Linked DNA regions of Homo sapiens: region 1 is linked to region 2. The links come from fine-mapping of genetic effects on gene expression. A gene starts in region 2. The other region holds a variant in brackets. All regions are shown on one strand. Distances are between the middles of the regions.

Region 1 (5,486 bases), 240 kb after region 2:
AGCTCCTTATCCTACGCCCCCTAGTCCCCTGGCAAACCCAGGCTTTTTATTTGTTTGTTTTGTTGTTGTTGAGGCAGAGTCTTGCTCTGTCTCCCAAGCTGGAGTGCTGTGACATGATCTTGGCTCACTTGCAGCCTCAACCTCCTGGGCTCAAGCAATCCTCCTGCCTCAGCCTCCCAAGTAGCTGGGACTTATAGATACATGCCACCACACCTGGCTAGTTTTAAATTTTTTGTAGAGATGGGATTTTTCTCTGTTGCCCAGGCTGGTCTTGTATTCCTGGACTCAAGTGATCCTCCTGCCTTGGCCTGCCAAAGTGCTGGGATTACAGGCGTGAGCCACGGTGCCTGGCCCCAGGCCTTTTAGACTGAACTCAGACATCACCTCCTTCAGAAAGCCTTCATGATGAGTGTTTGTGTGAGTATCTGTTTCTCTTTTTCACAAACACTTAGGTGACTCTAGTGCTCCCATTCTATGCACAAATGTCTCTGTCACTGGGCTTTGCCATTTTGTAGTGTAATTATCTTTTTTTTTTAACGGCTTTAGTAGGATATTATTTACATACCATCCAGTTTGCCCACTTAAAGTACACATTTTAATGGTTTTTAATGTATTCACAGAGTTGTGCAACCATCACCACAAATAATTTTAGAACATTTTATCCCCCAAAAGGAAACTTCATACCCTTTAGCAGTTGCTACTTATCCTGTTGGTCCCCTGCCCTGGGAAACCCGAATTTACTTTCTGTCTTTATGGATTTTCCCATTCTAGGCATTTAATATAAGTGGAATCATACAATATGTAGGCTTTTGTGAGTGTCTTCTTTCACTTAGCATAATGTTTTCAAGGTTCATCCATGTTGTAGCATGTATCAGTACATCATTCCTTTTTTTTCTTTTTGTTTTGGTTTTTGGTTTTTTTTTTTTTTTTTTTTTTTGAGATGGAGTCTCACTTTGTCACCCAGGCTGGATTGCAGTGGTGCAGTCTCGGCTCACTGCAAGCTCCGCCTCCTGGGTTCACACCATTCTCCTGCCTCAGCCTCCCAGCTGGGACCACAGGCACCCGCCACCACGCCTGGCTAATTTTTTGTATTTTTAGTAGAGATGGGGTTTCACCGTGTTAGCCAGGATGGTCTCGATCTCCTGACCTCGTGATCTGCCCACCTTGGCCTCCCAAAATGTTGGGATTACAGGCGTGAGCCACCGCCTCCGGCCCCATCATTCCTTTTTATTGCCAATTAATACCCACTGTCTGCACCCCACATTTGTTTATCCATTCATAAGTTGATAGATTGTTTCTACTTTTTGGCTATTACAAATAATGCCACTGTGAACATTCACATACAAATTTTTGTGTAGACATATGTTTTCATTTCTCTTAGATGTAGCCATAGAATTGGAAATGCTGGGTTATATAACTATTTATTTATTTTTTTTTGAGACAGAATTTCACTCTAGAGTGCAGTGGCACAATCTCGGCTCACTGCAACCTCCACCTCCCTGGTTCAAGAGATTCTCCTGCCTCAGCCTCCCCTAGCTAGGATTACAGGCATGCACCTCCATACTCGGCTAATTTTTGTATTTTTAGTAGAGACGGAGCTTTGCCATGATGGCCAGCTGGTCTCGAATTCCTGGCCTCAAGTGATCTGCACAAAGTGCTGAGATTACAGGCATGAGCCACCGTGTCTGGCTGATAACTATTTTTAATGTTTTGAGAAACGACCAGACTGTTTGAAGTGGCTGTACCATTTTGCATTCTTTTTTTTTTTTTGAGATGGAGTCTCACTCTGTTGCCCAGGCTGGAGTGCAGTGGCGCAATCTCAGCCCACTGCAAGCTCCGCCTCCCGGGTTCACGCCATTCTCCTGCCTCAGCCTCCCGAGTAGCTGGGACTACAGGCGCCTACCACCACGCCTGGCTAATTTTTTTGTATTTTTAGTAGAGACATGGTTTCACCGTGTTAGCCAGGATGGTCTTGATCTCCTGACCTTGTGATCCGCCCGCCTTGGCCTCCCAACGTGCTGGGATTACAGGCATGAGCCACTGCCCCATTTTGCATTCTTAACGGCAGTGTATGATGTTTCTGATGCCTCTATACCCTCACCAACACTTGTGATTATCCTTCTTTTTTTATTAGACCTATCCTAGTGATGTGAAGTGGTATCTCATTGTGGTTTTGATTGGCATTTCCGTGCTAGTTAATGATGTTGAGCATCTTTTCATGTGTTTATTGGCCTTCTCTATATCTTCTTTGGAAAAATGTCTCTTCAGACCCTTTACCAATTTTTAATTGGATTATTTGTCTTTCTATTGTTGAGTAAGAATTCTTTTGTTTTTTGTTTTTTGAGACAGGTTCTCACTCTGTCACCCAGCCTGGAGTGCAGTGATGTGATCACAGCTCACTGCAGCCTTGACCCTCTGGGCCCAAGTGATCCACCTGTCTCAGCCTTTCAAGTAGCTGGGACTACAGGTGCATGCCACCAGGCCCAGCTAATTTTATTTTTTGTAGAGACAGGGTCTCCCTGTGTTGCCCAGGCTTGCCTCAAGTGATCCGCCTGCCTTCACTTCTCAAAGTGCTGGGATTATAGGCATGAGTCACCACACCTGACCAAATATAGTCAAGAGTCCTTCTTTTTTTATTTTTGTAGTGACGGGGTCTTGCTCTGTTGACCAGACTGGAGTGCAGTGGCACAGTCACAGCTTGCTGTGGCCTCAAATTCCTGGGCTCAAGTGATCCCTCTGTCTCAGACTCCTAAGTAGCTGGAACTACAGGCATGCACCACAATGCCTGGCTAATTTTTTCTTATTTTTTGTAGAGATGGGGCTCTCACTTCGTTCCCCAGGCTGGTCCCAAACTCCTAGCCTCAAGTGATCCACCCGCCTCAGCCTCCCAAAGTACTGGGATTACAGGCGTGAGCCACTGCGCCC[G/A]GCCTTTTCTTTCATTCTATAGGTTGTCTTTTCACTTTTTTGATGGCGTCGTTTGAAGCACAAAATATTTTAATTTTGATAAAGTCTAATTTATCTTTTTTTGTCACTTGTACTTTTGGTGTAGTGATTATGAAGATTTACTCCTACACTTTCTATTAAGTATTTTATGGTTTTCTCTCTTACACTGAAGTCTTTACTCCATTTGAAGTTAATTTTTGTGTATAGTGTGAGGAAAGTGGTCCAGCGTTACTCTTTTACATGTGGATTTTCAGTCGTCCTAGCACCATTTGTTGAAAAGGCTAGTTTTTTTCCTGTTTAATTGTCTTGGTATCCTTGGTGAATATAGTTGACCATAAATGTAAGGGTTTCTTCTGGATTCTAAATTATATTTTGTTGATCTGTATGTCTGTTATTAGGCCATTACTACTGTGTCTTAAATTCCATAGCTTTGTAGTAAATTTTTAATTCTGGAAATGCGAGTCCTCCAACTTTGTTTTTCCTTTCAAGATTGTTTTGGTTATCCTGAGTCTCTTACATTTCTTAAGAATTTTGGGATAAGCTTATCAACTCGTATGAAAAAAGCCAGCTAGGATTTTAATACAGATTGCACTGAATGTGAAGAATTTAGGAGTATCATCATCTTAACAATATTAAGTCTTCTGATCCATGAACACAGGATATCTTTTCATTTGTTTAGGTCTTCTTCAGTGTTTTTCAGTAATGTTCTTTGGTTTTCTTTTTTTTTTTTTTTTAATTGGGATGGGGTCTTGCTATGTTATCTAGGCTGGTCTCGAACTCCAGGGCTCAAGCAATCCTGCCACCTTGTCCTCCCAAAATGCTGGGATTATAGATGTAAGCCACCATGCCTAGCGAGTCAGAATTCTTTAAATATTTTAGATACAGGTCTCTTATCAGATGTATAATTTGCAAATAGTTTCTCTCATTCTTTTTTTTTTTTTTTTAGACAGGGTCTCACTGTATTGCCCAGGCTGGAGTGCAGTGGTGCAATCACAGCTCACCACAGTCTTGGAACTCCTGTACCCAAGTGGTCCTTATGTTTCAGCTTTACAACTAGTTGGAACTATAGGCACACACCACCACACCTGGCTAATTTTAAAAAATATTTTTGTAGACAGCTGTGACTGCACCATTGCACTCCAGCCTGGACAACAGAGCAAGACTCTTCTAAAAAAAATACACACACATATATATATAGCAATTATATTTCTTTTCTTATTTTTGAGACAGAGTCTTGCTATGTCGCCCAGGCTGGAGTGCAGTGGCAGCATCTCAGCTCACTGCAAGCTCCACCTCCCGGGTCCACGCCATTCTCCTGCCTCAGCCTCCTGAGTAGCTGGGACTACAGGCGCCCGCCACCACGCCGAGCTAATTTTTTGTATTTTTAGTAGAGATAGGGTTTCACCATGTTAGCCAGGATGGTCTCGATCTCCTGACCTTGTGATCTGCCCGCCTCGGCCTCCCAAAGTGTTGGGATTACGGGTGTGAGCCACCGTGCCTGGCCGTAGATATAGCAATTATATTTCTATACATCAGCAATGAACAACCTGAAAACAGAATAAAAAGAAAAACAATTATACTTACAATAGCATAAAAAAGAATAAAATATTTAGGAATAAGTTTAAAAGATGTATACAGCTTATACTTTGAAAACCACAAAACAGGCCAGGCATGGTGGTTCACACTCATAATCCCAGCACGTTGGGAGACTGAAGTGGGAAAATCACTTGAGTCCAGGAGTCTGAGACCAGCCCGAGTCAACATAATGAGACCTCATCTCTACAAAAATATATATAATCAATTGTATATTGATTTTGTATTCTGCAACATTGCTAAACTTGTTTAATAGTTCTTTTTTTTTTCTTTTTTTGAGATGGAGTCTCACTCTGTCGCCCAGGCTGGAGTGCGGTGGCACGATCTCAGCTCACTGCAACCTCCACCTCCCAGGTTCACGCCATTTTCCTGCCTCAGCCTCCTGAGTAGCTGGGACTACAGGCGCCCGCCACCACGCCTGGCTAATTTTTTGTATTTTTAGTAGAGATGGGGTTTCACCGTGTTAGCCAGGATGGTCTCAATTTCCTGACCTTGTGATCCGCGCACCTTGGCCTCCCAAAGTGCTGGGGTTACAGGCGTGAGCCACCATGCCCGGCCTGTTTATTAGTTCTAATAGTTTTTTTTGTGGATTTTTTAGGATTTTCTATATGCAAGAGTGTGTCATCTGCAAATAGAAATAGCTTTACATTTTCCTTGCCGATTGGATGCCTTTCATTTCATTTTTTTCACCTAATTACCCTGGCTAGAACCTTCAGTACAATGTTGAATAGAAGTGTCAAGGGCAGATATCCTCGTCTTGTTCCTGACCTTAGGGGGAAAGCATCTTGTCTTTCACATGTAGTTTTCTGTTGATACCTTTTATCAGATTGAGAAAGTTCCCCCTTCCACTCCTAGTTTATTGAGTTTTCATTATGAAAAGGTGTTGGATTTTGTCTACTGCTTTTTCTGTATCTGAGATGATTATGTGGTTTTTGTTCTTTATACTATTG
Region 2 (5,223 bases):
TGGGGAGAGCCTCTTTTATGCCAGGCAGTAGGAATACAGAGGCCAAAGTGGGCACGAGATGGGTGTGTTTGAGGCCCGGCAAGGGGGCGCCATGGAGCAGCGGTGAGGGCGGGGGACCCAGGGGCCATTCTGAGTCAGAGTAAACCAGGGCCAGGTGCTGGGGTTCTTAGCGTCATTTATTTTATTTACTAGCAGTGGAGGACGACAGGATCTGATTCAGGTTTTAAAAGAGAACCCTCTGAGATGCCCCCCTCTCGGGGTGGAGCAGAGCTCCCCACCCCTTCCGTGGGCTGCACCCAGTGACTTGCTTCCCGAAAGTGCGGTGTGGACAGGGCGTGGGGGACCTGACGCGCAGCGCCTCAGCCAGGTGAGGAAGGCTCACTGCAGTGACCGGCACGGTGCTAGCATGTGCCCTGGGTGAAAGGGAAGGAGAAGGCCACTGAGCCTCAGAGGGCCCCCTCCGTGAACCCAAAACCCCAGTCCAGCCACGAGAAAACCGTCAAACAAACCCAAAGAGAAGGGCTTTCCGCAGAATACCTGACAAGCGCTTCTCAAAACCGCCAAGCTCATCAAAAAAAAGGGAAGGTTGGGAAATTGGAGGAGCCCAGAGGCACCTAAGAAGACCAGCTCAGTGCATGTGGGGTCCTGGGTTGAGTCCTGGACCAGCAAAAGGTCATTAGGGAGAAGTTATGAAATCCAGATCGATCATGGTGTTTACTTAATAATAAGGTATCAGTATTGGTTCATTAGTTATGAGAAAGGTACCCTGCTAGTGTAAAATATTAGCATTTCCCAGAGGAAACTGGGTCCAGGTGTATGGGAACTCCTTGTGTAGTTTTTTTTTCTTTGAGACAGGGTTTGGCTCTGTTGCTCAGGCTGGAGTGCAGTGGCGCAATCACAGCTGACGGTAACCTCCAACTCCTGGGCGCGAGCGATCCTCCCACCTTAGCCTCTGTACTATCTTTACAAAGTTTTATGTAACTATCAACTGTTGTAAAATTAAAACTTAATATATGCATAAAATAAAGAACCCCCTGACTTCAGTGGAGAGAGCAGACTGAGATGGACAAGAGTGAAGTCAGAGAGACGTGTGGGGGCCCCACAGTGGTCCAGGTGGGCGCTGTGAGCGACTTGTTGGTAGCAGTGGAGATGGAGAAAGATGAGTCGATTTCAGTGTCAGGACATGCTTATAGCTGGCGAGGAGGTGAGGGAACAGGAGGAAGCCTGAATGATGTGTGGTTGGAGCCAGTGGATTTTTTTCAATAGATTTTTCTTTTTGGGGAAAAGATAGATGAAGGGCAGGTTTGAGGTGGGTGGCCAAGGGTTCTCTTTTGGCTGGAATATTACTGACCCCCCTGGGATGTTACTGAGATCACTGGTCCTCATGGAAATGCCATTACAGGGACCGGTGAGTGTGAAGACCCAGGCGAGGGAGGTGCTGGCATGTAAGTGGATTTAAAGCATGGGATGGGACCAGGTCATCTAGGGAAGGAGGGTAGTGATGGAGAAGAAAGAGGGCCTGGCCCAGAGCCCTGGGACCTCCAACATCCAGAGACCTCACAAGGAGGGGCCACAGAGAGCCCACAGAGACCAGCCAGGGAGGGAGCAGGACACCTGGAGGATGAGGTGATCTAGACGCCAGAGTAAAGTGTTTCCAGAAGCAAGGGTTTGTCATTTGTGTCCTGCTGTGGGCACTGAAGGCAAGAACAGAGAAGTGACCAAGGGTTTTGCCATCACAGAGGTTGTTGATGACCTAAATATCCGTGGAGTGTGGGTCTGACTGAGGAGGTGGAGGGAGACAGGCAGTGGAGGCAGGAGACAGCTCTTTCCAGAACCTTTGCTGGGGAAGGGGAGCAGAGACATGGGCTGGGGCTGGAGAGAACCCGGGACAAGGCAGGTCCTTTCCAGGTGAGGAGACGCCTGCACGCTGCTGTGGTGATGCAGTGATTCTGTGCAGAGGGAAGAAAACTGCAAAATTCCGCACAAGTTGGAGCAGGGAGCTGGAGTGGGGGAGGTGGAGAGGGCGGGGGGATGCAGAGGACAAGACGGGGGGCCTCTTCAGAGCAGGGACCCTTCCTGATGGAGGTGAGGGATACTGTCCCCACTGTCGCAGTGAGGGGTGAACCTGAGCTCTGGGAGGCTGTAGTGGGGCAGGCACTCACTCTCCGGGTTGTCACAGGATTAAAGGAGGGTGCTTGGCACAGAGTGATGCCCAGTGAAGGTGTTCATGAGCGTCGGTGTCACCCAGCGGCGCCTGCTCATTGGACACTTGGTGTCTTTAATGAGCTGGGGAAGCTGGGGGGAAGCTTGGGCGGGGTGGTTGGAGTTTGTGTCTGAGGCTCCACTGGGGCAGGAGGGGACCTAGCCTGTGCCCTTCTCGCGGAGCCTGACCTCAGCTCTGTCCTGCGCCCGGGCCTGTGCGCTGGACACGGAGGACTGACTCGGGGGCCCCCAGCCCAGGGCGGAGCCGGCCCCCTCCCTGTTGCGGGTCGCGGGCCTAGCCTAGAGCCTGCGCCTGGCCGGGGAGACCTGCTGGGAGGGAGTGCGTCAGGGCGCGGGCGCCCGCCCTGCTCTGTGACGCGCGGCCCGAGGCGCACGCAGGGCTCACACCACCTGTCCTGGCCTCCGACCCGGGCCGACTATGGCGGCGCTGCGGCTCCTGGCGTCAGTGCTCGGGCGCGGGGTCCCCGCCGGCGGCTCAGGGCTCGCGCTGTCCCAGGGCTGCGCCCGCTGCTTTGCCACCAGTCCCCGGCTCCGTGCCAAGTTCTACGCGGACCCGGTGGAGATGGTGAAGGACATCTCTGACGGGGCGACCGTCATGATCGGGGGCTTCGGGCTCTGCGGGATCCCCGAGAACCTGATCGCCGCGCTGCTCAGGACCCGCGTGAAAGACCTGCAGGTGGTCAGCAGCAACGTGGGCGTGGAGGACTTCGGCCTGGGCCTCCTGCTGGCCGCCAGGCAGGTCCGTCGCATCGTCTGTTCCTACGTGGGCGAGAACACCCTGTGCGAGAGCCAGTACCTGGCAGGAGAGCTGGAGCTGGAGCTCACGCCCCAGGGCACCCTGGCCGAGCGCATCCGCGCGGGGGGCGCCGGGGTGCCCGCCTTCTACACCCCCACGGGCTACGGGACCCTGGTCCAGGAAGGGGGCGCCCCCATCCGCTACACCCCGGACGGCCACCTGGCGCTCATGAGCCAGCCCCGAGAGGTGAGGGAGTTCAACGGCGACCACTTCCTTTTGGAGCGCGCCATCCGGGCAGACTTCGCCCTGGTGAAAGGGTGGAAGGCCGACCGGGCAGGAAACGTGGTCTTCAGGAGAAGCGCCCGCAATTTCAACGTGCCCATGTGCAAAGCTGCAGACGTCACGGCGGTGGAGGTGGAAGAGATCGTGGAGGTGGGGGCTTTCCCCCCAGAAGACATCCACGTTCCTAACATTTATGTAGATCGCGTGATAAAGGGGCAGAAATACGAGAAACGAATTGAGCGCTTAACGATCCTGAAAGAGGAAGATGGAGACGCTGGAAAGGAAGAGGACGCCAGGACGCGCATCATCAGACGCGCAGCTCTGGAATTTGAGGACGGCATGTACGCCAATCTGGGCATAGGCATCCCCCTGCTGGCCAGCAACTTCATCAGTCCCAGCATGACTGTCCATCTTCACAGTGAGAACGGGATCCTGGGCCTGGGCCCGTTTCCCACGGAAGATGAGGTGGATGCCGACCTCATCAATGCAGGCAAGCAGACGGTCACGGTGCTTCCCGGGGGCTGCTTCTTCGCCAGCGACGACTCCTTCGCCATGATCCGAGGGGGACACATCCAACTAACCATGCTTGGAGCCATGCAGGTTTCCAAATACGGCGACCTGGCGAACTGGATGATCCCTGGCAAGAAGGTGAAAGGCATGGGCGGTGCCATGGACTTGGTGTCCAGTCAGAAGACCAGAGTGGTGGTCACCATGCAGCACTGCACAAAGGACAACACCCCCAAGATCATGGAGAAATGCACCATGCCGCTGACCGGGAAGCGGTGCGTGGACCGCATCATCACCGAGAAGGCCGTGTTTGACGTGCACAGGAAGAAAGAGCTGACGCTGAGGGAGCTCTGGGAGGGCCTGACGGTGGACGACATCAAAAAGAGCACGGGGTGTGCCTTTGCTGTGTCCCCGAACCTCAGGCCCATGCAGCAGGTGGCACCCTGACGGGACCTGGATCTGGGCGGGGTGGTGCGCTCCTCAGGGCGGGTGCCACCGGGTTCCCCAGGGGAATACATGTCCCCAGCTCTGGGAGGGGTTTGCTACTGGCCTCCTACTTTCCTCCCTAGGTGGACAGTGCTCCTCTAGAGAGCTGCGACTTTAATTAAAAACAACAGGAAAACAGATCAGTTCCTCACTGTGTTTCTCGAGCACTGCAAGGCGCAGGTCTGCAGTGGTGAGGAATGGATGTCCGCTTTGCTCTGTGATGTTTACACAGAGCGTGCACAGCTCAGTGCATTCACAGCAAGATTTGATTCAAGCGCCTCCCTCGTACTTGAACCATGAAATGGAGATAAAAACTGACGAGGGAGAAAATCACTCAACCCAGAGTACACCTGAAGGGACATTTTACTACTGCAGTGAGAAATAGGCGAGCAAAGATGTGAGTTTGTGATTGGAAGACATGCTATCTTCACGAGCTTGTTTTTTCTTTTTCCTTCTCTTTCTTTTTTCTTTTTTTTGAGGCAGGGTCTGGCTCTGTCGCTCAGGCTGGAATGCAATGGAATGCAGTGATCTCACTGCAACCTCTGCCTCCTGGGCTCAAGCAATCCTAATTCAGCCTCCTGAGTAGCTGGGACTACAGGCGCACATCACAATGCCTGCTTATTTTTTTTTATTTTTTAAATTTATTTATAGAAATGGAGTTTCACCATGTTGCCCAGGCTGGTCTTGGACACTTGAGCTCAAGCGATCCACTTGCCTCAGCCTCCCAAAGTGCTGGGATTACAGACATGAGCCACTGAGTTGGGCCAATTAACCTTAGCTTACTGTAATTTTTTTTCTTTTTTAGACAGAATCTCGCTCTGTTACCTAGGCTAGAGTACAGTGGTCCAGTCTCAGCTCACTGCAACCCCTGCTTCCTGGGTTCAAGCAATTCTCATGTCTCAGCCTCTCAAGTAGCTGGGATTACAGGCATGTGCCACCATGCCTAGCTAATTTTTGTATATATATTTTTAACAGTAGAGATAGGGTTT

The links. PIP is the estimated chance that this variant, and not a neighbour inherited with it, causes the effect.
Region 1: its variant is fine-mapped to the expression of OXCT2 in esophagus muscle (GTEx, PIP above 0.99).

Annotation. Positions count from the first base shown.
Region 1 is chr1:39,532,122-39,537,607 of GRCh38, reverse strand. It overlaps the pseudogene PPIEL. Among named protein-coding and RNA genes, the nearest start is that of PABPC4-AS1, 30 kb to the left of the region's middle. The variant G/A (reference allele first, on the strand shown) is at 2,926.
Region 2 is chr1:39,768,674-39,773,896 of GRCh38, reverse strand. OXCT2 (3-oxoacid CoA-transferase 2) reads left to right here and starts at 2,549. Exons shown (of 1, transcript NM_022120.2): 1 at 2,549-4,374. The coding sequence starts at 2,642. The coding sequence ends at 4,195. All of the region lies in intron 3 of BMP8B (bone morphogenetic protein 8b), which reads left to right. RefSeq lists enhancers at 1,830-2,502, 2,503-3,176 and a silencer at 2,517-2,616.